4 separate regions of the Homo sapiens genome follow, and all the other regions are linked to region 4. The links come from fine-mapping of genetic effects on gene expression. A gene starts in region 4. Each other region holds a variant in brackets. All regions are shown on one strand. Distances are between the middles of the regions.

Region 1 (8,084 bases), 84 kb before region 4:
CCGTCATCTTCTAGAGATTTGCATGGCTGGTCCCACTCAATAACCACTTTTATTAGCGTTTTGTTGTAGTTGTTCAGCCTTCAGTGTTTCCTTATGCAAATTTTATACAAGCAAATACAAATATATATATATATCCTATGTAGGTAGCATACTAGTATTACACTGTTTTGTGCATTCTTTTTCCTCATTTATCATGGAGATCTGCCCTTACCTGTGCATGGAGAACTTCCTCATTTCTTTTCACAGCTGCATAATTTTGCACTGTGTAGACAAACCAAAGTTCACTCAGCCAGTCTGAAATTAATATTTCAGCCTCAACAAGACTGAAATGAATATCTTCATACATATGTCAATTTATATGTGTGCAGATATATCTGTAGGATAGATTTCCAGAAGTAGAGTTGCTGGTCAAGGATAATGAATTGGTAGTCATGATAGCTATATTTCCTTCCATAAGGGTTAGTATGGGTTGAATTGTGACCCATAAAATTCATACATTGAAGTCCTGAGCCCTAGTAACTCAGAATGTGACTGCATTAGGAGAGAGGGTCTCTAAAGAAGTAATTAAGTTGAAATGAGGTCATTAGGGTGGGTCGTAATCCAGTTTGACTGGTGTCCTTATTAAAAGAGAGTAGGACACAGACATGTAGAGAGGGAAGACAACATGAAGACACATAGAGGAGAAGATGTACATCTATGAGCCATGGAGAGAGGTGTCAGAAGAAACCAGTCCTGCCAACACCTTGATCTCAGACTTCTAGCCTGCAGAATGGTGAGAAAATAACTTTCTGTTGTTTAAGCCACCCGGTCTGTGATATTTCATATGGCAGCCCTACCAAACTAATAAAGGTTGTGCTACATTGCAGTCCCATTAGTAATATATGAGAGTGACTGTTTTCTATACAGGCTTGACAGTGGAGTATCGAACTTTTGAATGTTTACCAAACTGATAGGTGAGAAAAAAAATCTTGGTGTACTTTTCATATTATGAGAGAAGTCAAGCATCTTTTCATATGTTTAAGGGCCATTACTTTTTTTTTTTTTTGAGATGGAGTCTCGCTCTGTCTCCCAGGCTGGAGTGCAGTGGTGCGATCTTGGTTCCCTGCAGCCTCCACCTCCCGGGTTCAAGTGACTCTCCTGCCTCAGCCTCCCAAGTAGCTGGGAATACAGCCATGTGCCACCGCACTCCACTAGTTTTTTTTTTTTTTTTTTTTTTTTGTATTTTTAGCAGAGATGGGGGTTCCACCATTTTGGCCAGGCTGGTCTGGAACTCCTGACCTCACGTGATCTGCCCGCCTCAGCCTCTCAAAGTTCTGGGATTACAGGTGTGAGCCACCGTGCCTGGCCCCAGTGCCATTACATTTATATTAATTTCTTTTTTGTGTGGATTTCTTTTATTGTGAAAGATGTGTTCATTTACTTCGACATTCCATTTTATTTTTCTTATTTAAAAGATTTTGTATAGCCCAGCATGAGCGACGCAGAAGACGGATGATTTCTGCATTTCCATCTGAGGTACCGGGTTCATCTCACTAGGGAGTGCCAGACAGTGGGCGCAGGTCAGTGGGTGTGTGCACCGTGTGCGAGCCGAAGCAGGGCGAGGCATTGCCTCACTCGGGAAGCACAAGGGATCAGGGAGTTCCCTTTCCTAGTCAAAGAAAGTGGTGACAGACGGCACCTGGAAAATCAGGTCACTCCCACCCGAATACTGCGCTTTTCTGACTGGCTTAAAAAACTGCACACCAGGAGATTATATCCTGCACCTGGCTCAGAGGGTCCTACGCCCACGGAGTCTCGCTGATTGCTAGCACAGCAGTCTGAGATCAAACTGCAAGGCGGCAGCGAGGCTGGGGGAGGGGCGCCCGCCATTGCCCAGGCTTGATTAGGTAAACAAAGCAGCCGGGAAGCTCCAACTGGGTGGAGCCCACCACAGCTCAAGGAGGCCTGCCTGCCTCTGTAGGCTCCACCTCTGGGGGCAGGGCACAGACAAACAAAAAGACAGCAGTAACCTCTGCAGACTTAAATGTCCCTGTATGACAGCTTTGAAGAGAGCAGTGGTTCTCCCAGCACACAGCTGCAGATCTGAGATCGGGCAGACTGCCTCCTCAAGTGGGTCCTTGACCCCCGAGCAGCCTAACTGGGAGGCACCCCCCACCAGGGGCACACTGACACCTCACACAGCAGGGTACTCCAACAGACCTGCAGCTGAGGGTCCTGTCTGTTAGAAGGAAAACTAACAAACAGAAAGGACATCCACACCAAAAACCCATCTGTACATCACCATCATCAAAGACCAAAAGTAGATAAAACCACAAAGATGGAGAAAAAACAGAGCAGAAAAACTGGAAACTCTAAAAAGCAGAGCGCCTCTCCTCCTCCAAAGGAACACAGTTCCTCACTAGCAACGGAACAAAGCTGGATGGAGAATGACTTTGACGAGCTGAGAGAAGAAGGCTTCAGATGATCACATTACTCCAAGCTACAGGAGGACATTCAAACCAAAGGCAAAGAAGTTGAAAACTTTGAAAAAAATTTAGAAGAATGTATAACTAGAATAACCAATACAGAGAAGTGCTTAAAGGAGCTGATGGAGCTGAAAACCAAGGCTCGAGAACTACGTGAAGAATGCAGAAGCCTCAGGAGCCGATGCAATGAACTGGAAGAAAGGGTATCAGCGATGAAAGATGAAATGAATGAAATGAAGCGAGAAGGGAAGTTTAGAGAAAAAAGAATAAAAAGAAACGAGCAAAGCCTCCAAGAAATATGGGACTATGTGAAAAGACCAAATCTACGCCTGATTGGTGTAGCTGAAAGCGACGGGGAGAATGGAAAACACTCTGCAGGATATTATCCAGGAGAACTTCCCCAATTTAGCAAGGCAGGACAACATTCAGATTCAGGAAATACAGAGAACACCACAAAGATACTCCTTGAGAAGAGCAACACCAAGACACATAATTGTCAGATTCACCAAAGTTGAAATGAAGGAAAAAAGGTTAAAGGCAGCCAGAGAGAAAGGTCGGGTTACCCTCAAAGGGAAGCCCATCAGACTAACAGCAGATCTGTCGGCAGAAACTCTGCAAGCCAGAAGAGAGTGGGGGCCAATATTCAACATACTTAAAGAAAAGAGTTTTCAACCCAGAATTTCATATCCAGCCAAACTAAGCTTCATAAGTGAAGGAGAAATAAAACACTTTACAGACAAGCAAATGCTGAGAGATTTTGTCACCACCAGGCCTGCCCTAAAAAAGCTCCTGGTACTGGAACAACCAGTACCAGCCGCTGCAAAATCATGCCAAAATGTAAAGACCATCTAGACTAGGAAGAAACTGCATCAACTAACGAGCAAAATCACCAGCTAACATCATAATGACAGGATCAAATTCACACATAACAATATTAACTTTAAATGTAAATGGACTAAATGCTCCAATTAAAAGACACAGACTGGCAAATTGGATAAAGAGTCAAGACCCATCAGTGTGCTGTATTCAGGAAACCCATCTCACGTGCAGAGACACACATAGGCTCAGAATAAAAGGATGGAGGAAGATCTACCAAGCAAATGGAAAACAACAAAAGGCAGGGGTTGCAATCCTAGTCTCTGATAAAACAGACTTTAAACCAACAAAGATCAAAAGAGACAAAGAAGGCCATTACATAATGGTAAAGGGATCAATTCAACAAGAA[G/T]AGCTAACTATCCTAAATATATATGCACCCAATACAGGAGCACCCAGATTCATAAAACAAGTCCTGAGTGACCTACAAAGAGACTTAGACTCCCACACATTAATAATGGGAGACTTTAACACCCCACTGTCAACATTAGACAGATCAATGAGACAGAATGTCAACAAGGATACCCAGGAATTGAACTCAGCTCTGCACCAAGCGGACCTAATAGACATCTACAGAACTCTCCACCCTAAATCAACAGAATATACATTTTTTTCAGCACCACACCACACCTATTCCAAAATTGACCAGATACTTGGAAGTAAAGCTCTCCTCAGCAAATGTAAAAGAACAGAAATTATAACAAACTATCTCTCAGACCACAGTGCAATCAAACTAGAACTCAGGATTAAGAATCTCACTCAAAGCCGCTCAACTACATGGAAACTGAACAACCTGCTCCTGAATGACTACTGGGTACATAATGAAATGAAGGCAGAAATAAAGACGTTCTTTGAAACCAACGAGAACAAAGACACAACATACCAGAATCTCTGGGATGCATTCAAAGCAGTGTGTAGAGGGAAATTTATAGCACTAAATGCCCACAAGAGAAAGCAGGAAAGATCCAAAATTGACACCCTAACATCACAATTAAAAGAACTAGAAAAGCAAGAGCAAACACATTCAAAAGCTAGCAGAAGGCAAGAAATAACTAAAATCAGAGCAGAACTGAAGGAAATAGAGACACAAAAAACCCTTCAAAAAAATCAATGAATCCAGGAGCTGGTTTTTTGAAAGGATCAACAAAATTGATAGACCGCTAGCAAGACTAATAAAGAAAAAAAGAGAGAAGAATCAAATAGACACAATAAGAAATGATAAAGGGGATATCACCACCGATCCCACAGAAATACAAACTACCATCAGAGAATACTACAAACACCTCTACGCAAATAAACTAGAAAATCTAGAAGAAATGGATAAATTCCTCGACACATACACTCTCCCAAGACTAAACCAGGAAGAAGTTGAATCTCTTAATAGACCAATAACAGGAGCTGAAATTGTTGCAATAATCAATAGTTTACCAACAAAAAGAGTCCAGGACCAGATGGATTCACAGCCGAATTCTACCAGAGGTACAAGGAGGAACTGGTACCATTCCTTCTGAAACTATTCCAATCAAAAGAAAAAGAGGGAATCCTCCCTAACTCATTTTATGAGGCCAGCCTCATTCTGATACCAAAGCCGGGCAGAGACACAACAAAAAAAGAGAATTTTAGACCAATATCCTTGATGAACATTGATGCAAAAATCCTCAATAAAATACTGGCAAAACGAATCCAGCAGCACATCAAAAAGCTTATCCACCATGATCAAGTGGGCCTCATCCCTGGGATGCAAGGCTGGTTCAATATACGCAAATCAATAAATGTAATCCAGCATATAAACAGATCCAAAGACAAAAACCACATGATTATCTCAATAGATGCAGAAAAAGCCTTTGACAAAATTCAACAACCCTTCATGCTAAAAACTCTCAATAAATTAGGTATTGATGGGACGTATTTCAAAATAATAAGAGCTATCTATGACAAACCCACAGCCAATATCATACTGAATGGGCAAAAACTGGAAGCATTCCCTTTGAAAACTGGCACAAGACAGGGATGCCCTCTCTCACCACTCCTATTCAACATAATGTTGGAAGTTCTGGCCAGGGCAATTAGGCAGGAGAAGGAAATAAAGGGTATTCAATTAGGAAAAGAGGAAGTCAAATTGTCCCTGTTTGCAGACGACATGATTGTATATCTAGAAAACCCCATTGTCTCAGCCCAAAATCTCCTTAAGCTGATAAGCAACTTCAGCAAAGTCTCAGGATACAAAATCAATGTACAAAAATCACAAGCATTCTTATACACCAACAACAGACAAACAGAGAGCCAAATCATGAGTGAACTCCCATTCACAATTGCTTCAAAGAGAATAAAATACCTAGGAATCCAACTTACAAGGGATGTGAAGGACCTCTTCAAGGAGAACTACAAACCACTGCTCAAGGAAATAAAAGAGGATACAAACAAACGGAAGAACATTCCATGCTCATGGGTAGGAAGAATCAATATCGTGAAAATGGCCATACTGCCCAAGGTAATTTACAGATTCAATGCCATCCCCATCAAGCTACCAATGACTTTCTTCACAGAATTGGAAAAAACTACTTTAAAGTTCATATGGAACCAAAAAAGAGCCTGCATCGCCAAGTCAATCCTAAGCCAAAAGAACAAAGCTGGAGGCATCACACTACCTGACTTCAAACTATACTACAAGGCTACAGTAACCAAAACAGCATGGTACTGGTACCAAAACAGAGATATAGATCAATGGAACAGAACAGAGCCCTCAGAAATAATGCCACATACCTACAACTGTCTGATCTTTGACAAACCTGAGAAAAACAAGAAATGGGGAAAGGATTCCCTATTTAATAAATGGTGCTGGGAAAACTGGCTAGCCATATGTAGAAAGCTGAAACTGGATCCCTTCCTTACACCTTATACAAAAATCAATTCAAGATGGATTAAAGATTTAAATGTTAGACCTAAAACCATAAAAACCCTAGAAGAAAACCTAGGCATTACCATTCAGGACATAGGCATGGGCAAGGACTTCATGTCCAAAACACCAAAAGCAATGGCAACAAAAGCCAAAATTGACAAATGGGATCTAATTAAACTAAAGAGCTTCTGCACAGCAAAAGAAACTACCATCAGAGTGAACAGGCAACCTACAAAATGGGAGAAAATTTTCGCAACCTACTCATCTGACAAAGGGCTAATATCCAGAATCTACAATGAACTCAAACAAATTTACAAGAAAAAAACAAACAACCCCATCAAAAAGTGGGCAAAGGACATGAACAGACACTTCTCAAAAGAAGACATTTATGCAGCCAAAAAACACATGAAAAAATGCTCATCATCACTGGCCATCAGAGAAATGCAAATCAAAACCACTATGAGATACCATTTCACACCAGTTAGAATGGCAATCATTAAAAAGTCAGGAAACAACAGGTGCTGGAGAGGATGTGGAGAAACAGGAACACTTTTACACTGTTGGTGGGACTGTTAACTAGTTCAACCATTGTGGAAGTCAGTATGGCAATTCCTCAGGGATCTAGAACTAGAAATACCATTTGACCCAGCCATCTCATTACTGGGTATATACCCAAAGGACTATAAATCATGCTGCTATAAAGACACATGCACACGTATGTTTATTGCAGCATTATTCACAATAGCAAAGACTTGGAACCAACCCAAATGTCCAACAATGATAGACTGGATTAAGAAAATGTGGCACATAGACACCATGGAATACTATGCAGCCATAAAAAATGATGAGTTCATGTCCTTTGTAGGGACATGGATGAAATTGGAAATCATCATTCTCAGTAAACTCTCACAAGAAGAAAAAACCAAACACCGCATATTCTCACTCATAGGTGGGAATTGAACAATGAGAACACATGGACATAGGAAGGGGAACGTCACACTCTGGGGACAGTTGTGGGGTGGGGGGAGAGGGGAGGGATAGCATTGGGAGATATACCTAATGCTAGATGACGAGTTGGTGAGTGCAGCACACCAGCATGGCACATGTATACATAGGTAACTAACCTGCACAATGTGCACATGTACCCTAAAACTTAAACTATAATAATAATAAATAAATAAATAAATAAATAAATAAAATCAATTGTCCATAAAAAAAGATTTTGTATAAAGTTTAAAGAGTACAAGTGCAATTTTGTTATCTGGATATATATTGAGTACTGGTGAAGTCTATGCTTTTATTATGTCCATCACCCAAATAATGTACCCATTAAGAAATTAATTGTACTGGTTAAGTAATCTGTCACCATCTACCCCCTTCCCATCCTCTCACCTTTCTGAGTCTCCAGTATCTACCATTCCACCCTTTATGTCTGCATGTATACATTATTTAGCTTATAAGTGAGAACATGTGGTATTTGACTTTCTGTTTCTGGGTTGTTTCACTTAAGATAATGGTTTCCAGTTCCATCCATGTTGCTGTAAGAGACACATTTCATTCTATTTTGTGGCCGAATAGTACTCCACTGTGTACACATACCACATTTTCTTTATCCAGTCATCTGTTGATGAACATTTAGGTTGATTCCATATCTTTGCTATTGTGAATAGTGCTGCCATAAACATATGAGTGCAGATATCTTTTTTAATATAATGATTTCTTTTCCTTGGGGGTACTCAGTAGTGGGATTGCTGGATTGAAGGGTAGTTCTATTTTTAGTTCTTTGAAAAATTTTCATACTGTTTTCCATAGTGGTTGTACTAATTTACATTCCCACCAACAATGGA
Region 2 (8,084 bases), 300 kb after region 4:
AGGGATAAATGCTTGAGGGGATGGATACCCCATTCTCCATGATGTGATTATGTCACATTGCATGACTGTATCAAAACATTTCATGTATCCCATAAATACATACATCTACTATGTACCCACAAAATTAAAAGTAAAAAAAAATTAAAAAAAAAAACCTACTATTAGTCTCAAAGTTAGTATGATTCAGAGAGAGGGAGAATGCTAAGGATTTTTTACATTTTAATTGTTTTACTCAAAACAATTAAAACATAAGAGTTTTATATACGTGAGGGGTACATACGATGCTTATAGTTCCGAGATACCAGATGTTCCCTGACAGTGCCAACAGATGAAGTATCAAAAAAGCAGAGAAAACTCAAGAAACTGAGTTTTATTGAGGGAAGAAGGAAATAGAAACTATCACCAAATTAGGGCCACTGGTTGACTCTTCCCTGGCACCCTCACATGTACAAGACCTGTCCCAGACACAGAGCAAGTCTCTGCTCTCTATTAAATGAGAGCAGTAATCCACATTCATTCACAAAACCCTAATTAAGCAGTTATTTGTAAAGGAGTTTTCCATGACTTCTAGACTCGAAAAGATATGTGTGGAATCCCAGCAATTTATGTAGAAGCCAACACAGCCCCTGGCACATAAATAATAGATACTTAATGAATAAAGCATCCACGTTATTGTTGATATTAATAAAAAGAATCTTCATTGAGTGCCTAAAAAGAAAAAGCCATAATAACAAAAACAGCATGATACATAAAAACAAGACACACATACCAATGGAACATGATAGAGAACCCAGAAATAAATCCACTCATTTACAGCCAACTCATTTTTGACAAGGGCACCAAGAACATACATTGGGGAAAGGACTGTCTTCAATAAATGGTGCTGGAAAAACTGGATATCCATACATAGAAGAATGAAACTAGATTCCTATCTCTTACCATATATAAAAATCAAATCAAAGTGGATTAAAGACCAATGTAAGACCTGAAACTATGAAACTAAAAGAAAACATTGGAAAATTTTTCAGGACATTGGTGTAGGCAAAGATTTTGGGTGTAAGACTTTAAAAGCAGAGGCAACAGAAACAGAAATGGACAAATGGGAACACATCAAGCTAAAACACTTTTGCACAGCCATGGAAACAACAAATTGAAGAGACAACCCACAGAATGGGAAAAAATATTTTCAGGCTACCTAACAAGGGATTAATAACCACAATATATAAGGAACTCAAGCAATTCAACAGCAAAAAGAAAAAATAATCCAATTTTAAAATGGGCAAATGATGTGAACAGACATTTCTCAAAAGAAGAAATAGAAAAGGTCAACAGGTATATGAAAAATGCTCAACACCACTAATCATCAGTGAAATGCTAATCAATACCACAATGAGATAGCATTTCACTTCAGTTAAAATGGCCATTATCAAAAAGACAAAAAATAGCAGATGCTGGCGAGGATGTTGAGAAAGAGAAACTCTCATACACTGTTGGTGGAAATGTAAATTAGCATGGTCATTATGAAAAATAGTATGGAGGTTCCTAAGAAAAACTAAAGGTAGAGCTACCGTATAATTCAGCAATTGCACTGCTGGGTATATATCCAAAAGAAAGGCAATCAGTATATTGAATATATCTGCACTCCCATGTTTATCACAGCACTATACACAATAACCAAGATATGAAATCAACCTAAGTGTCCATCAATGGATAAATGGATTTTTAAAATGTGGTATATATACAAAATGAAATAATATTCAGCCATAAAAATAATAAAATCCTTCATTTGCAAGACACGGATGAGCCTGGAGGGTATGTAACTGAAATAAGCCAGATGCAGACAGACAAATATCACATGTTCTCCCTCATATGTGGAAGCTAAAAACGTTGATCTCATAGACATGGAGAACAGAATGGTATTCACCAGAAGTTAGAGTTGGGAGAAAGATGAAGAGAGGTTCATTGATGGGTACAAAATGCAATTAGATAGAAAGAATAAGTTCTAGTTTTCAGTAGCATAGTAGAAAGACTATAGTTATCAATAATTTATTGTATATTTTAAAGTACCTGGAAAAGAATACTTGGAATGGACTCACACACACAAAAAAAATGTTTGAGGTGATTAATGTCTCAATTGCCCTGATTTGATTATTACAAATTGCATGCATCTATCAAAATATCACATGTACCCCATAAATATGTATAATTATTGTGTAGCAGTAAAATGCAAGTCATCTGAAAAAAAAAAGAATTAACACCAATACTTCACAAACTTCCAAAACCTCAAAGGGGAGAATGTACTTATCAGTTCATTCTATGAAGCCAGTATTACCCGAATAACAAAGTCGGACAAAGGCATCACAAGAAACAAACTATAGAGTAATATCTCTTCTCAATATAGATGTAAATGTCCTCAATGAAATACTAGCAAACAGAATACAGCAGCACGTAAAAATGTTATATTCTATGACTAAGTAAGACTTATTCCAGTAATGCAAGGTTGCTTCAACATGCAAGAATCAATTAATGTAAGATACCATATTAATAGAATAAAGGGAAAAATTACATGATCCTCTCAATATATTCAGAAAAAGCATTTGATGAAATTCAATGTTCTTTCATGTAAACATACTCAATAAACTAGGAATAGAAAGGAATCTGCTCATGCTGATAAAGGGCAGCTATGAGAAACTCACAGTTAGTATCATATTGAATGGTGAAATACTTAAAGCTTTCCCCCTAATATCAGGCACAAGATAAGGATGCTTCTCACTGCTTCTATTCAACATTGTACTGGAGGTGCCAGCAAGAGCAATTAGGTAAGAAAATGATGTAAAATGCATCCAGACTGGAAAGGAAGAAGTAAAACCATATTTGCAGATGGTATGATCTTATATAAGAAAATACTGTGGAATTCAGAAGAAAACTATTAGAACTTGTAAATGAGCTCACCACGTTTGTAAGATACAAGATTAATATGCAAAAGTTAATTGTAATATGTAATGAATCAATATTTTATATTGTCTTGACAAATTTCTCATAAAATGTATCACATTGTGTGTTTCTAGTCTCTTTATGTTACTCCTGGAGGGTAGACACCATGAGTTTTTCTATATATGTATCCAGTCTCAGTACATGGCACTTATTTGTCATTCAATTAATACATTTATGAACAATATAACTTGGTAATATGTCATAGATGTTATCCAAGGCCAAAGATACTCATGAAGTAGGGCTTACCTTGAAGTCTGTAATAGAACATATATAGTGTGAGGAAAGATAGCTCCCTTGGTATCACTTAAATACATAGTATTGTATTGGAAAAATAACCACTTGTATTTATATATATTGTCAATGTACAATCTGAAAGTGATATTAAGAAAGCAATTCAATTGAAAATAGATTCAAAAGAAATTACACTAATAATACATTTAACAAAAGCAAAATGTATACCTTGAAAATTAAAGAAAAAAAATCATTGAAAGGAATGGAAGAAAACCTAAATAAAAAAATGGAAAGACCCTGCCATTTTCACAGACAGAACGACTTAATATTGTTAAATGGCAACACTCCCCAAATAGATCTATAGATTCAATGTGATGTTTAACAAAATCCCAGCTTCCTTTTATTGCAGAAATTGACAAGTTTATCCTAAAAGTCCTATGGAAATACAAGAGTGACAGAAAAGACAGATCAATCCTGAAACATAAGATTAAAGTTGAAGGTCTCACACCTTCCTATTTCAGAAATTAGTACATGGATAGCTACAGTAATCAAGGCTATCTTGTACTGGCATAAAAATAGATCAATGGAATAGAATTGAGTATTCAGAAGTAAACTTATACATTAATGGTAAATTGTCTTTTGATGAGGATGCTAACTCAATTCAATGGGAGAATTAATAATCTTTTTAAGTAACCTTTATGAGACAGCTAGAAATCCACACATAAATGAAGTTGAGCCCTTACCTCTCACCATATACAAGAATTAACTAAAAACACA[A/G]AATGGATCGAAGGTCTGTATTTAATGGCTAAAGTTACAAAACTCTTAGAAGAAAACATAAGTGTAAATCTTGGTGAAATTTGGTTGAGCGATGGTTTCTTAGATATGACACCTAAAGCACGAGCACCCAAGGAAAAAATAGCAAAATTTTACCTTATCAAAATTAGAAGCTTTTGCGCTTCTTAAGACACTGTCATGAAAGTAAAAAGACAACCTACAGAATGGAAGAAAATGTTTGCAAATCATATATCTAATAATATGCAAATCACATATGCATATATGAGAGATATCATATATGCATAGATGAGAGATATCATATATGCATATATGAGAGATATCATATATCTATGTGATGCAATTCATATATCTAATCATAATCATATAGCAAATCATATATCTAATAATATGCAAATATCTAATAATATGGAAATCATACAGCTAATAAGGGTCTAATATCTAGACTATATAAAGAATTAAAACCTCTTAACAACAAAAAGGCAAATAATTCAGTTAAAAATTGGCTACAGACATTTGGAGACATTTCTCCGAAGAACATATACAAATAGTCATGAAAAGTTGTTCAGCATCATTGGCCATAAGGAAAATGTAAGCCACAATTAAAATATCACTTCATACTCATTAGGATGGGTACAATAAAAAAGACAGACAATAGCAAGTGTTCATTAGAATGTGGAGAAACTGAAACCCTCATATACAGCTAGTGGGAATAAAATGGTGCAGCTACTTTGGAATACAATCTAGTAGTTCCTGAAAAAGTTAAACACAGAGTTACCACATGACTTAATTCCACTCCTAGGTATATAGCATATACTCAAGAGAAAGGAAAACTTCTACCCACACAATATTCACAGCAGCATTATTCATAAAAATATCCCAAAGTGGAAATAACCCAAACACTCTTTAACTGGTGATGGAGAAAAAAAATGTGGACTATCCATACAATGGAATATTATTCAGCCATAAAATGAATGAAGTACTGATACATGTTACATGGATTAAACTTATGAAATTATAAGTGAAAGAATCAGACACAAAAGACCACATTTTGTATAAGTCTAATAATATGAAATGTGAATGATAAGCAAATCCTAGGAAACAGAAAAATTAGTGGTTGCCAGGGGTAGGAGGAGGGAAAATGGTTTGTGACTGCTAGTGAATATGGGGTTTCTTTTTGGGGTGATGAAAATGTTCTAGAATTACATAACAGTAATGATTGTGGAATCTTAAGATAGTAAAAACCACTGAACTGTACACTTCAAAATGGTGAATTTTATTGTATGTGAATTATATATCAATACATACAAGGAAGTAAAAATAGTGAGTTAACAAGGAAATCTTGTTTTTTCCCCCTCATTCTTGGCTTTCATCTTGGGACTGGTTCCTTGTGGGAGCTCTAGGGAAGAAATCTGTTTCCTGCCTTTTCCAGCTTCTAGAGACCACCTAAATTCCTTGCCTCCTGGTCCCCTTATTCATCTTCAAAATCAGTGGAGTAGCTTCAAATCTCTCTCTCCCCTTCTGTATTCACACTGCCTTCCCTCTTTAAAAGGACCCCTGTGGTTGCACCTACCTGGATAATTCAGGATAATTTCCCCATCTCAAGATCCTCAACTGAATCATATCTTCAAAGTCTTTTTTTTTTTTTTTTTTTTTTGGCCATGGAAGGCAACATACTCATAGGTTCTCAGGATTAGGACATGGAGATATTTGAGGAGGGGGGTGTTTATTCTGTCTACTACAGACCGTCTTCTTTATAAGATTAAAATAATAATAATTAAAATGACAGTTTAAAATGACTTAAAATGAGAGTTTAAAAAGCAATAGGAGATTATGTGAGCATTATATAATTGTTTTATTCTGTTCAGCAGGTAGGCAAGCACTGAGAAAAGTCATCAAGTATCAGAAGTTACACCTAAGAAATTGATATGGTTTGGCCGCACACGAATCTCATCTTGAATTGTAACTCCCACAATTCCCACATGTCATGGGAGGAACCTGGTAGGAGGTGATTGAATTATGGGGTTGGGTCTTATCTGCACTGTTCTGGTGATAGTGAATGAGTCTCACAAGATCTGATTGTTTTAAAAACTGGAATTTCCCTGCACAAGCTCTCTTCTCTTGTCTTCTGCCACGTGAGATGTGCCTTTCACCTTCTGCCATGATTGTGAGGCCTTCCCAGCCACATGGAACTGTAACTCCATTAAACTTCTTTCTTTTGTTAATTGCCCAGTCTCAGGTATATCTGTCAGCAGCATGAAAATGGACAAATGCAGAAACCAATTTATTTACCAAGAAAGGACCATGCAGAATTGGCTGAATATTATTATTTTGCTCTTCACAGTAGAATATTCAAATAACCACTTAAAGGTGAAAAAAAATCAAATCAGCAAAAAGAACAATCTGTTCATATATTTTAAAGGGAAAAGTGCTGCTCCTCTTGGGCCAAAAAGGAAATAATTGGAAAGCTATGGCTGAATTTCCACCTAAGGTCACATTGTCTTGATGCAAATATAACAATAATTGGTAATAGTAGTAGTAGTAGTAGTACTAGTAGCAGTAGTGGTAGTAGTAGTAGTAGTAGCAGCAGCAACAGCAGCAGTAGTAGTAACTAGCATTTATTGAGTTATTATGTGGTAGGTATGTATGCTGGTAAAAAAATTTCCATTAGGTAATTCATTTATTCCTCAATATTTTGAGTAATAATGAAGTAAGGCCCCTTCCAATGAAGTAAGGCCCCTTTTTCATAGAAGAGGAAAATAAGTCTTCAATAAATCAAGTGACTTTTCCAAAGTCACATAGCTAATATGTAGTGGGGCTGGATTTAGAACCTAGGAACCCAACCCTAGATTGTGTGCTGGAAATACAATTGTGATCCATCATTGACATGGCCCTGGGTAGGAAGTGTACCAGTACCTGAGATTGTACATATAGGGAACTTCAGTGGTCTAGGAAATCAAGTAATATTTCACTGAGTTAAAATCTGAATAGTGAACAAATGTCAAATAAGCAAATGTGGTATGAGGCAGGGACATGTTTGTGGAGAGCATTCCAAAAAGAGGGATTAGCCCAAGCAAAGGAAAAAACCCTGAGGCTAGAGCACATTCCCAGAACAAAAAGATGGTTACTGTGGCTGGAATATAGTGAGCGTAGTGAGGTACGATATACACTAAAATCAGAGAGGTGAGCAGAGTTCAGCTCTTGAAAGGTTGTATAGCCCATGGTAAGATATTGGGGTTGATTCTAATTTAGTGGTTATGAATCAGTAGTAATTTTTCTTCCCCCCTCCCCAAAGGGACATTTGGCAATGCCTAGAAACGTTTCTGATAGTCACAACTCGGGGTGGGCTGCTACTGTAGTGGGTAAAGGCCAGAGATGCTGCTAAGCATCTTATAGGGCACAGGATAGCCCCTCCTACCCACAACAAAGAAATACCAGTATTGCTGAGGTGAGAAACCCTGTTCTAACTGTAATAGGAAACTTTTGAAGGATTTTAAGTAGGTGAGTGGTCCAATCTTAAATATATTTTCAGATTTATGTCTTATATATTTTATGTCTTATGTCAATGCATAGAATTGATGGTGGAGAGAGACGGCTGGATATAGGCAGATTAAGAGACTTTTGTAGAAGTCCAGGCCAAAGATGATTATGGAATTGCCTAGGATCATGGCAGTAGTAGCAGAGAAAAGTGAAAGGTTCAAGTTGTACTTTAAAGGTAGAGACTAGAGGATTTACTGAAGGATTGGATGGGGTGGTGCTGAAGGAAAGAGAGGAATCAAAGATGATATCCACGTTTCTGGCTTTACTTGATGGGTGGATGGGTGGAGGTACAAATGAGGGAGAAAAAAAGATTGAGAGGGTCAAAGTGTGAAAGGAGAGATAATGTCAATTGTGATCATAGTAGTTTTAAGGTGCCTCCTTGATATATAAGTGAAGACACCAAGAAGTCAGTTAGACATATGAGTTTGGAGCTCAGAGAAATCCAGGCTGGAGTGATATATTCATGAGCATTCCATCCAGAACAGCAAATGGAGAAATCTGGAATGTCTGGGGGCAAGTCGTAATCT
Region 3 (8,084 bases), 280 kb after region 4:
CTTCAAGGACTCGTTGAAGTCCTGTATCCCCCAGGAAACTTACCCAGTCCACGCCTACTTTGATTCCCTGCTTCATATCCAGTTTCAGATTGCCTGCCTAATGATTTGAATTCTTCCTGCACATTATCTTGTTTTTCAAACTAGTTCATACACCTATTCTTGAGGAGTTCACTTGCTTATTTTCACCTTCCAAAGTACCTAGCATTTCTTCTGTGTATTGAGTTCAAACACTGAGTGGTCTTAAAGTTTTGAGTACTTGCTAAATGGCTGGAGCATAGTCATGGGCACTGCAGAAGCAAGGGTAGATCTGAGCAGAGAGGCAGCATATAGTATTCAAGAAAGAAATGTATATGGCAGGGCATAGAGTTCTGGAATCATTTGGTCTTATGTACTCACATTTTCCACATCTGCCCATGCATTTTAACAGTTTTTTGTTTCATACCTAACCAATGGCTGAAAGAAATAGACATTCTGGTTTTTAACTCATTCTATATAAAGTTTTAGTATGGTTTTTGTATTTTTTAAACAATTCTCTCAGCTACCATCTTTTTTTTATTTTATTATTATTATACTTTAAGTTTTAGGGTACATGTGCACAATGTGCAGGTTAGTTACATATGTATACATGTGCCATGCTGGTGCGCTGCACCCATTAACTCGTCATTTAGCATTAGGTATATCTCCTAAAGCTATCCCTCCCCCCTCCCCCCACCCCACAACAGTCACCAGAGTGTGATGTTCCCCTTCCTGTGTCCATGTGTTCTCATTGTTCAATTCCCACCTATGAGTGAGAACATGCGGTGTTTGGTTTTTTGTTCTTGCAATAGTTTACTGAGAATGATGATTTCCAATTTCATCCATGTCCCTACAAAGGACATGAACTCATCATTTTTTATGGCTGCATAGTATTCCATGGTGTATATGTGCCACATTTTCTTAATCCAGTCTATCATTGTTGGACATTTGGGTTGATTCCGAGTCTTTGCTATTGTGAATAGTGCCACAATAAACATACGTGTGCATGTGTCTTTATAGCAGCATGAGTTATAGTCCTTTGGGTATATACCCAGTAATGGGATGGCTGGGTCAAATGGTATTTCTAGTTCTAGATCCCTGAGGAATCGCCACACTGACTTCCACAATGGTTGAACTAGTTTACAGTCCCACCAACAGTGTAAAAGTGTTCCTATTTCTCCACATCCTCTCCGGCACCTGTTGTTTCCTGGCTTTTTAATGATCACCATTCTAACTGGTGTGAGATGGTATCTCATTGTGGTTTTGATTTGCATTTCTCTGATGGCCAGTGATGGTGTCAGCTACCATCGTTTTAAAGCATTTGCTGAAGCACAGTTAATAAAAGAAAGAGAAACAAAGACAGAGACTGAGAAACAGAGAAATAACATGGCACCACCAACGTTCCCATAAAAACATAATTTTCTATGTTATCCCTTCCCAGGCATATGGCACTGAGTCATAATAAATAACAGTAATGGAAAATGGCCAAATATACATTGGTATACTGGAGCTAAGTACAAAAGGAGATATAGAGTTATTTTTAAGATACACTCTATTTCTAAAATGCTTTCAAGCCTTAAATACACTGAACAGTCATATCTTTAAAGGGAAAGAATTGTACATAAGTTCTAAAAACACTTGCTGAGATAGTAAATGAATGTGCTCAATTTCCCTGATCAGAGCCTTTCATTCCAATTTGATGTAAGCCATAAATGAAATGACTTGGCTGATTATAAGTCAGTTCCCCATGAACATTTGTTTACATCTGAAAGCCACTACACATAATTGCTGTCTCTGCTCAGGGGAGGTCCAGCTGGGATTACAAGAACTGTTGCAAGGTTCTACTGAGGTGTCATCACCAGTTACGGCATGAACCTGGCACTGCATGTCCACACTCTGTCTGCTTTGGCAATTGGATCCATCAGTCTTCCTCCTTCACACAGCTAAAATTAGCTAGAAGACAGCAGAAGTCTTGGGAAGGAAAACATGGGGCTGTAAATAACATTCAGACCCCAAGTCTGCTTTGCTCCTGAGAGATAGCGTGTAATTATACCTTAGTTACTATGTTCTTCCAAAAGCCAGTAATAGTACATTTTCATTGATGAAGAGAAGGGTGAGGTTGAGGATAAGGCAGGATAACGGGCATACCGTAAACATTGATTTCTCTGAAAAAATGGAAATTGACAATTTGCCTTAATCATTTTCTTTTGAAGAAAAAAAAAATGGGTCTACTCAATTTGTATAATAATGGGAAGTAAATGTGTAAACCGCTTCTTCCCTTTATTAACAAATTCAAATTTAAAATAAACCAGTTTAACATCTGTATGTACATTGGGGAAAATAATGGTATCTACCTCAAAAGGTAGTTATGAAGATGAATGAATTTAGAACTTTTATAAGTTTTAGAACAGTGTAACACTATATGTTTTCCAAATAAATGAATAAAGCCTAAGAAGAAAAAAGTCTATTAACATTATTATAATCTTTCATTTTGTGTAGCTAACATTCCCATTTAAATGACAGCATGTAAAAATTTTGTAGTACAATATTCCTTTGCATATTTTACACATAGCACACATTTACTTTCTGATTGTAATGGGACCCAAAAGAAGTTAAATCCTAGCTTGAGAGTCAGTATCATTGCCTCTAGCATTACCAATTTATTGCATATTCTTAGATAACTCATCCATCATCTTACTCCCTCTGATATACATATCTTAACTCAAAAAGGGTTATAGGCCTCTATCACAAATATACTTAAAATGATCAAGGAAAGAGGTGAGATCATAATTCCTTACCCTTGTCTTTACTGTTAACAAATAATAATAAAGACAGATTGCCAGATTTGGTCTGTTGTTACTGTTTCTCTTCATGTTCAAATCTTATCAAATAAAACCCTCTGATTACGACTTAATAAAGAAGTCCCTTGAAGGTGGTCATGTAAGTAACTGCAGTAACATTTCCAGAAGGTGGACTCATTAGAAAATGAGATTCAGATTAATGGGGGAGAAGGGGAGATTCTTCTTTCTTTATGCAATAAAACTGCTCACTGGCGAGGCTGCCCCAGCAGTGTGGACTTCCCTTCACTCCTGAATGAGGATAACACATGTGCTAACTGATCTAACCTCTTAGTTACGGATGATTAGAAATACAGCCTTTTACCAACCCCAAGACGTCACTCTTGTAGACAAAGCATCAGTCCTGGTAACAACCCACTAGGAAAAAGTCTCATGAGGACCCAAAGTCCAGGCTGTTTTGGGTGGTTCTGGCTGAGCAGAATAAGCCAGAGGAGGAGGGAAAGGAAGGGAACACTAAATCTTTCTAATCATTCTCTCTAACCTCCCTTGTCCCATAGGAGAATGTAATTTTGTTTCTGTGGAATTCTTTAAGTAAATGGTTCAGGCTTCCTTTGCCATTTATGGGGGCAAGACTGGCCTGTTATTGCTGTACTGAGGTGTGATACTAAGGCCTTTATAGCAATGGCAAGGTGGTATGCAATTCTGCCTCCCACACAGACTTTAGGCAGCTC[A/G]CTTTCCCTCTGCAGGCCTCATTGTCTTCATCAGTAATGATACCTGGTCTGTGAATTATTATGATTTTTTTTTGAGACAGGGTCTCACTTTGTTGCCCAGGTTGGAATGCAGTGGCATGATCTCGGCTCACTGCAACCTCTGCCTCTGGGTTCAAGTGATTCTCCTACGTCAGCCTTCTGAGTAGCTGGGACTACAGGTGTGCGCCACCACACCCGGCTGATTTTTGTATTTTTAGTAGAGATGGGGGTTTCACCATGTTGGCCAGGCTGGTCTCGAACTCCTAACCTCAGGTGATCCACCTGCCCCAGCCTCCCAAAGTGCTGGGATTACAGGCGTGAGTCACCGCACCCAGCCCTATTATGATTTTTTTTTAACTTACTTTGGCAAAAGTGATCATCCTCCCCTTTGTGCTCCCGCTATGTGTTGAACACAATTCAGCCTCTCCACTTTCCAGTCTGTCTGCTAATGCACTATTCCAATAGGCCTTGAACTCTTTCAGAGCATGGACTATATCTTACTTATATTTGTATTACTATCACCTCGAATGCAGTGAGCACTCAAACATGTTTGATGAATAAATGAAGGAAGGAAGGCATAAATGAATACACGAGTGAAATGAGTTGGACTAGATATCTTCTGAGACTTCTAAACTACAGGCTGGAGCAGTACTTTTCCATCCCAATTCAAATCACAGTTTGTATAGGTTCAGGCACAGATAACAGAATGATTCAGAAGAACTGGAGAAATTATAGACGAGTGGTTTAAATGTCTTGTATTTTGTACACTCCCTCCCCCAATTTTTACTCATCTTTGTCTTCTTCATCCTATGATGAGACCTATTTTCCTCTTTTCTAAGGCAAAAAAAAAAAAAAAAAAATTGACATTTGCATTTCTCCACCAGCCTGTGTCACTGTTTATTATAAAAATAATTCTTTTCAGCTCATTAAAAACAGCTCATATATGATACGGTATTTCCTTGGTAAATACAACCCTTTTTATACAAACCTGCATCCTTTCCCTCAGATGCACTCAAATTGATTGTATGCCATGACCAGCCAGTCTTAGCCACAGAGTCCCCTCTTTCCACAATCATTGATGGCTGCAATTAGCATATGTGAAGTACTGCTAGGCAACTTCAGCATCTTTCCCCATGTGTCTGAAGACTTAGGCAGGCAGCTTTGGAGTGCAGGCCTTCTTGTCAGTGTAGGATTCCCCAGATTGCACATGCAGTTGCAACTTCTGCCAGTTGCTTGAAGGTTCTGATTGCCTGAGTGACAGTTAAATGGGAGTGTGACTATAATACTGCTTAGACCCTTACATTTTACATAGGTCAGAGAAAAAAGCAACTTTAAAAAATGGAGTGTACTTAAGTAGTACATTTTTCAAAATTGTCATTGTTTTTTCTTTCTGCTATTCTGTGAAATATAAAAGGGCCAACATTCACATATGAATAATGCAGGTGCTTCACTAAATAGGAAAGGGGAGGGAGAGTGAGAGAGAGAAAGAGAGAGAGAGATAAGGGGCACATAAGAAGGGAAATATGGAAATATGGAAGCACTGTTGTTTTCTCTCAATAGTGCTTCTATGAAACAATGTTTCTAATGGACCTAGGAAGGCAGACCAAGGAGGAGAGTATAAAGAAAGGCAGTGTAATTAAAACCGATGGTTCATAACAATGTGTAATGAATGATAAGGCTTAGATCAAAGTCCAAAAGGAACAGTCCAGCCTTGGCTGTAAAAATCAAAAGTCAAAATATGCATTAAGTGTCGCCCTCTGTAGCCAGCACCATTCCTCTGCCGGTGCTCCCTGTCTCTAAAGGAAGCATATGCCACAGCAGCAAACTCTATTCACAAGTGAACATTCTTAAAGAATTACTTGTGTGCTCCTCTACTGCATAATGGTCCAAGGACAGAACCCCCTGGCTGTGCCATTGCACAATGCAATGGAAAAATTCAAAGCTGGCAGCCCTGTGTTTGTAGCTTCCAAGAATCCTAACCAAGGTCAATTACCAGATACTTGCTCTTTCCAGACAAAGCATTACAATGAGAAGCATCAGGGTCTTTTCACAGGAGTATAAAAATTTGGCTAAACATTGGGAAGGCAATGAAAGTTTTCCTACTCTTCTTTCCACTTGTGCTATGCAGTGTGCTGTGTGGAAGTGGGCTGCATGCTCTGCCACCAAGAGTTGGCTGCATTTCAGTGGCAAAGAAGAAAGGCACCACAGAACTGTGATTATTTCTTAACACTCCTGAGGATGATTTCTCCTGAATCCTATTATGTATTTTTCAGCATGCTTCAGTTATGGGATCCTTGTCTTAAGTCCCTTTAACATTGTGACCTCCCAGAATTAAAAGGATGTTGAATGCCACTGATTACATTTGTTTCTCAATCCTAACCTGAGTCACAGTTCCTTTCAGAGCAGTAAAACCCACATGCATCCAAGCTCTTTACATTTGAAAGATTTGGAATAAGTTATCTAGATTTTAGGATTCCTCAATCCAATCAACAGAGGCAATTCTCTTCACTAAGATGGTTCCTACATCAGCAGGACACCCAAATCATTCTTCACTTTGATTCTAGGGTGATGCCTACTGAGGGCCTGAAGGGAACAAGTGTGATTTAAGCGAGGCCTAGGGTTTTTTAAAATAAGTGACTCCTGCTAAGTGCTTCAAGGCTTTGTTTTACAGAAGGTGAGGTCAGTGAAAGTGAAGTTATACTTAAATCATTAGGGAACAAGCTGATCTACTGTGTAATGACCACTGCCTGCCTAAAATGCAATGAGACTACTTTGAAGGAAACTCTCAACACTTGAAACATCCAAGTGACCTTTGTCTTTCAAAAGTAGACTTTTCACTGCCAGTACTTCACATTTTGGAACTCCTCTTGGGGAAATGTCTTTAGAGCCAGTATCTGAGTCGTAAAAGAAAAGCACAGTCATTTCTTCAGATCCACACCTAGTCAGTGAACACAAACAGCATTGTTCAGTTTGATCCAATGTCGCCCCCCTACTGCATTAGACTTCGCTTCCAGGGAAGGTGTCCTTTCCAAAAATTAAACCCACTCTCAGGAGACTGAACTTTTGCACCACTGAGAGTCATAAGAATGGGCTCAGAAGATAGTTTCCAAAGAGGAGGGTCGTTAACCAAACTGAAGTAAGTGTATAGCCCTAAAAGGGACAGCACTAATTTATATTTAAATTATGAAATGTTATTTAAATATTGTGTGTATGGGGGGAGAAAATTTAGTTTAAAGTGGATTAAAAAATCTAGGCTTCCCCATTTCTAACAATGGGGATTACAAACTCTGACTTCGAAAGGCTGTTGTGATAAACAGTCGAGATATGTGGATATCTTTTGTAGACCCCGAGGTGCACATTCAAGAATAAGGTGTATGTGTATGTACGTAAACAAATATAGGAATTTGTACACATCTACACACTACATAAAACTAGTGCTTTAAATTCCCATCTTTTAATCTATAAGGAAAACATGAAGAAGATTTGAAGAGGATGGAGATAAAAGGAATGAACAGTTGAGCTTAGATTACAAGAGTAGAAAGGTGAACACAGATTTAAAAGCAGAATGTAGTGGCTTGAATTTTACTAATGTTTCACTTTTCCCTATCTTAATACCAAATGATCCTACTAGAAAAGGTTAAACCCTCAAAGATTGGACCACATTTAAACCCAACAAAGGAAGAACCATTTTTCTAATTACTCTAAATTAACTTAATATTTGTTATTCTTTTTATACCGGTATTTCAACACAAAACACACTTATCAAAGGAAAGCTAAGTGAATTAATTGGGAAGCTTAATTTGAGTTCACTTGAACAAAATTTTACTGGATGGATTTCTTTTTAGAAATGTAATACTTGATGCCACTCAAGACCCTCAAAATAAAAAGCTAAATACAGAATTTCTCACAGACCCTGAGTAAGTGATTAGTCTTAACACTTTTCCATTCAAAATTACATACTTAGAGAGTCACAAGGTTTTTTCTCATTTAAAGTCAACTCCCAGTTATTGATAATAGATAAAAACCTCAATTAATTGGAACTCAACCAACTAGAAGTCTCATCTTACTGGAATGTTGTTGTCATTACCCTTCAGAGAGAAGAAAATAACAATAAAGTGGCGGGGCACGGTAGCTCACGCCTGTAATCGCAGCACTTTGGGAGGCAAGGTGGGCGGATCATTTGAGGTCAGGAGTTTGAGACCAGCCTGGCCAAAACCCCGTCTCTACTAAAAACAAACAAACAAACAAAACCAAAAACAAAATGCGTGAAAGTCAGCCAATTTGGTGTGTCTTAGTTTCCCAATAAGCCCAGTTTTCTGCAATTTTCCTGTGATAGCTATATAAAGAAATAGGGAAAAGAATAAAGATTTATGAGGCACTTTCCACATGTCCATCTCTTTTTGATCGGGCCCCAGCTAATGTTTTACACCCTATTCCTTCATATGTCTTCCATTCCAGCCATTCTAGATATCTGTCATTTTGTTTAATCCTGACAACAATCATGTAAAAGTTGTAATATATT
Region 4 (8,084 bases):
TACAATATTATAGACTTAATTATAAAAATCACCATTTTCGGTAATATTTCATAATTTTAAAAGTTTGCCTTAAATAGAAAATGTATGCTTAATTGGAAGTCATAGTAAGTACAGAATATTCACATGTGGGCCTACGGAAAAGCAAGGGACTATGAAAATCTATAAAAATATAGTTATTTGATATTTGCATCAATTTGGTTTGATAATATATCAACTCAGATTTCTAGGTTACGCTTATTTCCCATTGTCTTTATGGAAACATAAGTTCAGCTGAAAATCCAAACTTAGGGCATTTGGGCTCAAAAGAGTTTACACCTCCACTGAAATAACGGCACAGTTTTTCACTCCCAATTCATGTCTATAACACAAATGGATATAACAGAAATCTTATGAAACACCCTTCAAAAGACTCTCAGCCTCCAGAGAGTAAGCTGATAGAATAACAAATCTCCTGAGGATCCTTTAGGGAAAAAATGCCTGTCAAACAGCACCTTCAGTACTTTGGTACTTTCTGGGGGAAAATGCTTTTATGATACTATTGTTTGGGAATTTATGCCTACATAAAATGAATTTAGTTTGGTCTCAATAGCTTTGATTTATTTCCCCAGAATTTATCATCTTAAAAAAAAAAAATCCCTGAAGTTGTTCTATCAGGTTACTGGGAAAGTTCACTATAGTACTTTAATTTAAAATACTAAAGAAAGTGGAATTAGCACATTGTATTGGCTAAAGCACTTAAGGTCTCTTAAGTAAGCTACATTAAGTGCATACCTTTAAATGCAGAAAAAATATATCCATTTCCTAAATCAATGGAGGTCAATATAATGGGTCAATATGAGGTTATTCATTTTCAAGGGATAAATAGAAACATACATTGCATATCCTAAAATAACGTTAAACCTTCAGTCTGTTTCCCAGTGAAGGACAGGACAGATTTTCTAAGAGATTGGACCACATCCAGTTTGGCCACCCAGCCGGAGTAAGAAATCTGCACTTGTTCAGTGTTCCCAGACCCACGTATTTTCTGTAAATACAGGCAATGTTACCAGAAACAATTTGGATCAACTGCAGAAAAAGAGTCATTCCTGATTTTTGTTGGTTATTAATTCTAGGTACTAGTCTTTTCTATTAGTAACTTTTCTTCCTACTACACGCCCCAAGTAATTAAGTAAAATGCCTAGAAGGCAGGTCTTGAGTTCTTCGTCTTGCAACACTAAGATTTATGAATCTAGTTGAGAAACTTGAGAGAGAAGGGGAGGGCGGCGGGAGGGGGTGTTGGGGGGTGGGAGGGGAAGGTGTGGGTGGGACAGACACAGAGGACTTATCTGTGCAACAGATAATCGGCTCCAAATAATTTTTTCAAAGTGCTCTATTTACCCGAGATTATTTGTTAGATGTTTTGTCGTGTAAGTTAATCAATACTTGTTGAATTGAGCAAGCAACTTCAGAAGGTTATATTCCAGGCGAAATATACACAGACTGACATTTCTTTTTCACTTTTCTTTCACTTAAAAATAGCTTTAAAATATTTGTTGACGCTTGTTACTTTTTACTACGCTCTATAGAAACAACCCGATAGTCTTCCATGGCAGGAGTAACCTCAAAAATGCGTCATGTCTAACTTTCAAAAGCAAAGCACAGTCATTAATGCACGGTTCAAGCAACCCAGAAGTCGATGTCGGATTACCACACCCCCTTCTAACAAATTACAAGACTTGGTTTGGTTACCTGAAAAGACTGTTGATTAACCAGGCTATAAACCAGGATGAAACCTTGGCCGTTTTTGATGTAGAGATCTCTCATGGAGGCAAACTGCTCAGTTCCTGCGGTGTCCAGAATTTCCAGCACGGAGGGGGAAGAGTCCACTTCGATCTCTTTGCGGTAGAAATCTTCAATGGTGGGGTCATATTTCTCAATGAAAGTCCCAGTGACAAACTGCACAGTAAGGGCAGATTTGCCAACCCCTCCACTCCCTAACACCACTACCTTGTATTCCCTCATGAGTCTCACCTTCACCAACTCCTACCAGAGGGGGGGAAAGATCACCCCGCTAGCTGTGGCGCGGCTAGACGAGGCGGAAGGTGGGCGGAAATCTGCGAACTGGGGAGGAGAGTGCAGAGGAGCAGAGGGCCCAACCGGGGAAGAAGAGGAAGTTACAGGAGGGGGAGGGGAAAGAGCGTAGAGTCGGGGAGGGTGGGGAAGGGATGGTAATGCCCTTCCTATAGGAACTGCAGCCCGAGCAGGGGGCGTGGGGAGGAGGGCGAGCCTGGGAAAAGCCCGGCGAGGGTGGCGAGGAGGCGCGTGCCCCCGGGAGGGAAAGGGTGGGGGCTGCGGCGAGGGGACCCTGCGGCGAGGCGGACGTCGGAGGAGCCCGCAGCCCGGGGCTGCCCGGCACTCCTCCCCCGCCCTTCACACAAAGGGGCCCAGGGACCCCGCTTCCTGCTCGCGCAGCCCAGCCGGCTCAGGCCTGAGGGCTCCGTTCCAGTTACCGCTGCCCGGGCGGGTTTCTGGGCCCCGGCTCCCGCGGGGGTCGTCCGGCCTGTGAAGGGGAGAAGGACGCACATTACCCGGCTGACCCCCGCCCCGAACCTGCGGCGCCGGCCGCCGCCTCCCCCAACTCCCACCCGGATCAAGCTACTGCCGCTTACCCCGCCGTCCGCACCCGCCCGGCCGCCGGGGAGGCTCTGTCACGCCAAGGCCATGGCCACCCGCTGGCTCCTCTGTCTCTCCGCTGCCCCAGCGCTGCTGCTCGCCGCGGGGAAAGAAGCGGGGGCCTTCCGCGGCGGCCGCAGGGACTCCAGGCGAACCCACCTCTTTTTTTTCTCACCCACCCCCCACCCCCACCCCCACCCCCACCCCCACCCCCACCAAGCACACACCCGGAAGGGTTTCCCTGACACACTGGCTGAGGTGCCCCAGTTCCCCGAGACTGGACGGGATCACTTCCGGTGGGGAAAGTCCCACCTCTTCGGGGCGAGCCGGGTGGCGCTGGAGCCGCGCCCTGCTGAGCGAGCGAGCCGGCCGGGGACGGTTTCGGGTCGGGACTCCGGCTTCGGGAACGGGCCTCTGGAAACCTGCGACGTCAGTCCTTACCCGCCCGCGGCTGCCGCGGACCGTCCCACCCCCAAACCCGTAGAAGCCCCTCCGACCTGCAACCTCCAGCCGCCCGGCCCTAGGACTTGAGCGGCTCCCTGGCCGGTGCGGAACCTGCGGGCTAATAATCTAGCGACCGGGAGAACGCCAAACATCCCTGGACTAGAAGTTGCAGGGGAAATCAAACAGCCCAGAAAGTTTATTCTCCTTGCTGGTATTTCTTCCACTTGCTATTTTGCTGAGAGATGCATGCAAACTACCCTTAGACTTTCAGATGCAGTGCGTTTTACTTAGCCGTGCCTGACAAACACACAGAACTTTTACCGTCTGGTAGATCCGCCTTGACTTTACCAGCGAATACTAAAGTCACTTAAAAAAAAATCACAAGGCTCGAAAACAGCAGCATTAGAAGTAGACTTTATGGTACTCTGCTCAGCTATGTTCTCATTTGATTCCAACCACTACACGGCAGAAAAGGTAACCAATATTCAAGAAAGATTTGATTGGAAACGGTTTAGGCCTAAAGACTAATTTATTTTAATCGTTGATTATGTATAACAATTTGCTTGGCTGGCTCTTACATGCTGAAGTTTTGTTTTAAAGGCCATCCTATGTAGTCTTTGAAATTCAAAAGCAAGTAGTAACTCTGGTGTTAGATTCTAAGTTTCTATTTTTAGATAAAATTGTTACTTCCGACTATCTTTCCCTTTGCTAGCTTTCTATTTGTAAACTTTGTGTCGGATCCACAGAGCCCCAGGGCCAGGAGTCTAGGCTGTATTTTAGGTGTGTCACTTTCTTTTCAATTCAAGCATGTACCCAGAAACCTGCGAGACTCAGTGGCCAGCCTAGCAAAAATGACTCCAAATTCCCTTACTTACAAGCCCTAAATGGCCAAACTCTATAAAGAGATTTATTACTCAGCCTAAATTGTTGGACATTAGAACACAGGCGAATCATAGTAGTGTGAGGTCCCACTGTCCCTCCCTGAGTATTCCCCAATGTCACTTACAGTCTTCAAAGGAGAGTTTAGTTCAATTTCTCCTTGACCTCAGGCCGGTGCCATCTCTCCAGCGAAGTCCCCAGCTCTGGCTCCAGCTGGCCTGGGCCCTGTGTCGTATCAGAGGCACTGCCCTCTGCTGGAAGGGGTTTGGTCTGTGAGTTATGAGTTTCCCCACAGGTCACTGCTCCTTTCACACGTGCTGTTGCCTGATTTGGAGCTCTGCTGCTCATCTCCCTGCCTAGCTGTCTCCAGACTGTCTGGTGGGATTCACAGCCCTCCACCAGCCGTGCTTGTAACTGAGTCTGGAAATTCCTCTTCTGATCCAGCCAGTGTTGAGCAATCGTGGCAAGTCTTTGCTCTATTACTAAACTGTCAAAGCAAGGAGTTCTTTTTCAGGTCATCCCACCTGTTGGCAATTCTAATATCTCTGAATGTGTTGGTCATGCTTAGGAGAGAGTTCTTTGTTTCTCCACGCAGTGAAACATACTCCTCCCCTCAGTACAGCGTCCTGTGGGGTCACTCTCGTCAACTACAGTGGACAAATATTACACTCAGTCTAAAGATCCTTCTAAACTTTCTTAGGAAGGGTATTCATTACAGCATTGATTAGGAAATCAAACAATTGGAAGAAGCTTAAATGTCCTTCAGTAGGTGATTTTTAAAAGTTTCATAGCTCTCTATATCTATTATCTATCATCTATCTATCTATCTACCAACCTACCTACCTACCTATCTGTATTCACAGAATAGGATATTATGCAGCTACTTTAAAAGAGAAAAGCAGATTTGTAAGTGTTTATATAAAAAGATGGCCAAGATATATTGTAGGGCTGAAAAAGCAAGATACTGAACAAATGTCTAGTTGCTACTGTTTATGTAAAACGCAGGTGTGTAATAGTTACATAGCCATTCAAATCTGAAACAAAGTAATTATGGGTGAGGACTATTATGAAATGGCTTTTATTTCTCCATATTTTAATTTATAAACAATAATTGGGAAAAAGGAAGTAAATATAACTTTATAATATTTTTAAAGGAGGAACAAAAGAAAGTTGTTGATCTTGGTTTTGTAAAAAAAAAAAAAAAAAATCCTGACTGTCTAGGGGTCAGTGGACAGGTCCGCCCAATTTAAACAAATTCCCTACCCTTGCTTGCCCTCCCCAAACATCTCTATACTTAGAAAAGTATTTTCACATACATTATCTCATTAGACTCCTGTTGTTTGCTAGTGTACTCTCATTAAGCAATGAGGGTATAAAGAGCAAGCAGAAGAGTGCGGCCTGGCAGTTGAGAGCTAAGGCTCTGAAATGAGACAGAGGTGCATTAAAATTGCAGCTCCGCCACATTCTAGCTCTGTGTCCCCAAGCAAGTGATTTCACTTGTCTGAGCCTCTAACTCCTCACTTGTAAAAAGGAGATAAGAAGTTAACGTGAAAATGTAATGAGGTATTACAGGTAAAGTGCTTAGCACAGTCCCTTGCACATTATAAAGCCTCAATAAATGCTATTTGGTTTTTATTTAAAAGATTTAATGAATTGTTAATTTTTAAAAAATAGCAAACATGGGGGTAACAAAATTTTAAAAGCTCAAATATCTGCAAGTGGCACGAAAATAATAATTCAGTTACTCTTCACAAAGATATTTATTGTTAAAAGCTTCTTATGTTTTTCAGGGGGGAACATTATTCATATGTCAGTGTATCAATCTACCTTCTATATATATTTTTAAAAATTACTGTACTACAAAAGTAATCAACTGTACACACTATTTTTTACCTTGCTTTTTAAACTTTAATTAATTAATTTTTTTAAGACAGTGTCTCCCTCTGTTACCCAAGCTGGAGGGCAGTAGCATGATCATAGCTCACTGCAGCCTCAACCTCCTGGACTCAAGGGATCCTCCCACCTCAGCCTCCCGAGTAGCTAGGACTACAGGTACATGCCACCACACACAGCTAATTTAATTTAATTTAATTTTTTTGGTAGAGATGGAGTCTTACTATGTTGCCCATGGTGGTCTCCAACTCCTGAGCTCAAGGGATCCTCCCGACTTGGCCTCCCAAAGTGCTGGGATTAAAGGCATGAGCCACCATGTCTGGCCTTCTTAATTTTTATTTCATGGCTGTATCATAAGCTAATTAGCCAGCTCCCCTTTGAAGGACACTGATTGCTTCTAGGTTTTTGCACTAAACGCCTTGGACATATATCATTGTCAGTTAATGTTTAGGGTGAATTTCTAGTAATTCAATAATTGAAACAAAAGGCACTTGCACTTAAAATTCTTCTGGTAAGTATTGCCAAATTGTCCTTCAGAAAGGTCACACCAATTCACATTCCCACCAATGCAGTATGACCGTATCATTTTATAACCTCACAGTAGGTATTACTAATTTTAGCATTTTATAGTGATTGTTACTTGCTTTAGGGTATTTTCAGGACTAACAAATGCAGGGCAGCGTTTTAGAAGGAATTTGGACTTCAGAGCCAGACAGTCCTAACACTGCCCTTTTGCAAGCTACACCTCCATTCCTTCATTTGTAAAGTTGGGCATAATAGCAGTATCTAACTCATAGAATAATAAATGAGAAATCCATTCAAAGCATTTAGCCTTCCAAATATTAATTGCTCAATAAATAGAAACTGCTCAAGTAATAATTTTCTACTCCAAAGGCTTGAATATGGGAAGAGGGGAATGGGAGGACTTCTCTAGAGATCATGCCCTTGAGATTCACAACTTTTGCTTTAATTCTGCATCAACCTCCTTTCCAAAGTATTGCTCAGGCATTATTTTAAAGAACACAACCCATTTTTACCATAGTGTGAAGAAACCACAGTGTATGCACTATATGCAGATAATATAAGTAATAGGGCCATAATCTCATTTTTTGAAATTAGTTTGGCACAAGTTTAAAGTGCTGGATGTTTGCTACAGGCACCAGTTGCTTACTTATCCCTTTCTTCTTTTCGAGTTGTTACCTCCTTCAGTTGCAATCCTTGGAGCCACCAACTGCCTGGGATATTTTACCCTAACTTCCACTCTCCAAATGAGCCGTCTTGCCTTCTAGGTCCTGGGAAAAAACCCATGGCTATCCATCTACTTTCTATACATGGCTATCTATTTTCCATCCAGGCTCTTCCCTTCTCTTTTGCTAGAAGTTGCTCTTGAATTACCAGAAAGCTTGAGCCAGTAATGTCCTCAGTCTTTGCCTACAGAAATCTTATTTCAATGCTTTAGGGACCCCATTGATATCAGCTAAATTGTCCTGGATTCTTTCTAGCTCCTACCCTCTAAGATTCCAATCTTCTCTTTCAAATCCTGCCTCCAGCTACACCAATCATTAGTTAATCATTAGTTCTGCATGTCAGGCTCCCCCAGTACACAAAACCAATTTTATACCTTTATTATTATCTTTTTTCTCATGAAAATAATGTTATTTGCAAAAAATTATAAAAGTATAATCCCACTACCTGGAGAAAATTGCTATTAACATTTTAGTGTCTTTCACAATTTTTTTTCTGGAGAGAGTTAAAGAACATTTTTTTTTTGTAAACTAATAATGGGTTCATATAAATTTGTGAATGGCTTCTTTCACTTACTGAAACATCATGTCTGCATAAAGCACTAAAAAATACTCATGTATCCCTCATCCCCTACATGAGTAAGCCTTTTTTCCTATAGCTTTAGCTTTCCTACAGCATCAATGAGAATTTAATCACATTCAATTTTGCTCACCTGGAATCCTTCATCCAATCAATGAGATTTCACTAGAGGTGCTGCTGACCACAGAGGACACTACCCCAACCTGGCCAGGCAGACACTCCTACAAAGTCACAAATTTGTGCGACTGCTGACAAAGTTAGTTTCTCAGAACTGAGAGGCGTACTAAATAGGGATGTGTTTAAAATAGATCTGAATTCCTTAACAATTTTTCCCTCTCCACTTCATCCTTGATTTGAAAGATAGTAGTTAGAAAATTATTTTGTAATCTATC

Direction of the effects. Alleles are on the strand shown, and positions count from the first base shown. SD is a standard deviation of normalised expression in the study named. Not every link is listed here.
For the expression in aorta of the gene that starts at base 4,180 in region 4, G is the low allele of the variant in region 2 and A is the other (small effect, 0.21 SD a copy in GTEx).

Evidence for each region. PIP is the estimated chance that this variant, and not a neighbour inherited with it, causes the effect. A credible set is the group of variants that fine-mapping cannot tell apart.
Region 1: its variant is the best candidate, but not a certain one, in a credible set for the expression of RAP2C in blood mononuclear cells (TOPMed, PIP 0.71).
Region 2: its variant is the best candidate, but not a certain one, in a credible set for the expression of RAP2C in aorta (GTEx, PIP 0.57).
Region 3: its variant is the best candidate, but not a certain one, in a credible set for the expression of RAP2C in whole blood (TOPMed, PIP 0.80).

What each region holds. Positions count from the first base shown.
Region 1 is chrX:132,131,346-132,139,429 of GRCh38, forward strand. It overlaps the pseudogene AGKP2. Among named protein-coding and RNA genes, the nearest start is that of FRMD7, 7.4 kb to the left of the region's middle. The variant G/T (reference allele first, on the strand shown) is at 3,691.
Region 2 is chrX:132,510,360-132,518,443 of GRCh38, forward strand. No RefSeq gene overlaps it. Among named protein-coding and RNA genes, the nearest start is that of MBNL3, 25 kb to the left of the region's middle. The variant A/G (reference allele first, on the strand shown) is at 4,003.
Region 3 is chrX:132,499,949-132,508,032 of GRCh38, forward strand. No RefSeq gene overlaps it. Among named protein-coding and RNA genes, the nearest start is that of MBNL3, 15 kb to the left of the region's middle. The variant A/G (reference allele first, on the strand shown) is at 3,545.
Region 4 is chrX:132,215,268-132,223,351 of GRCh38, forward strand. It overlaps RAP2C (RAP2C, member of RAS oncogene family), which reads right to left and starts at 4,180. Exons shown (of 6, transcript NM_001271186.2): 1 at 4,103-4,180; 2 at 2,965-3,074; 3 at 2,649-2,745; 4 at 1,729-2,539. The coding sequence starts at 2,001. RAP2C-AS1 (RAP2C antisense RNA 1) reads left to right here and starts at 3,240. Exons shown (of 3, transcript NR_110410.1): 1 at 3,240-3,570. RefSeq lists silencers at 2,170-2,609, 2,620-2,669 and enhancers at 4,102-4,171, 4,502-4,551.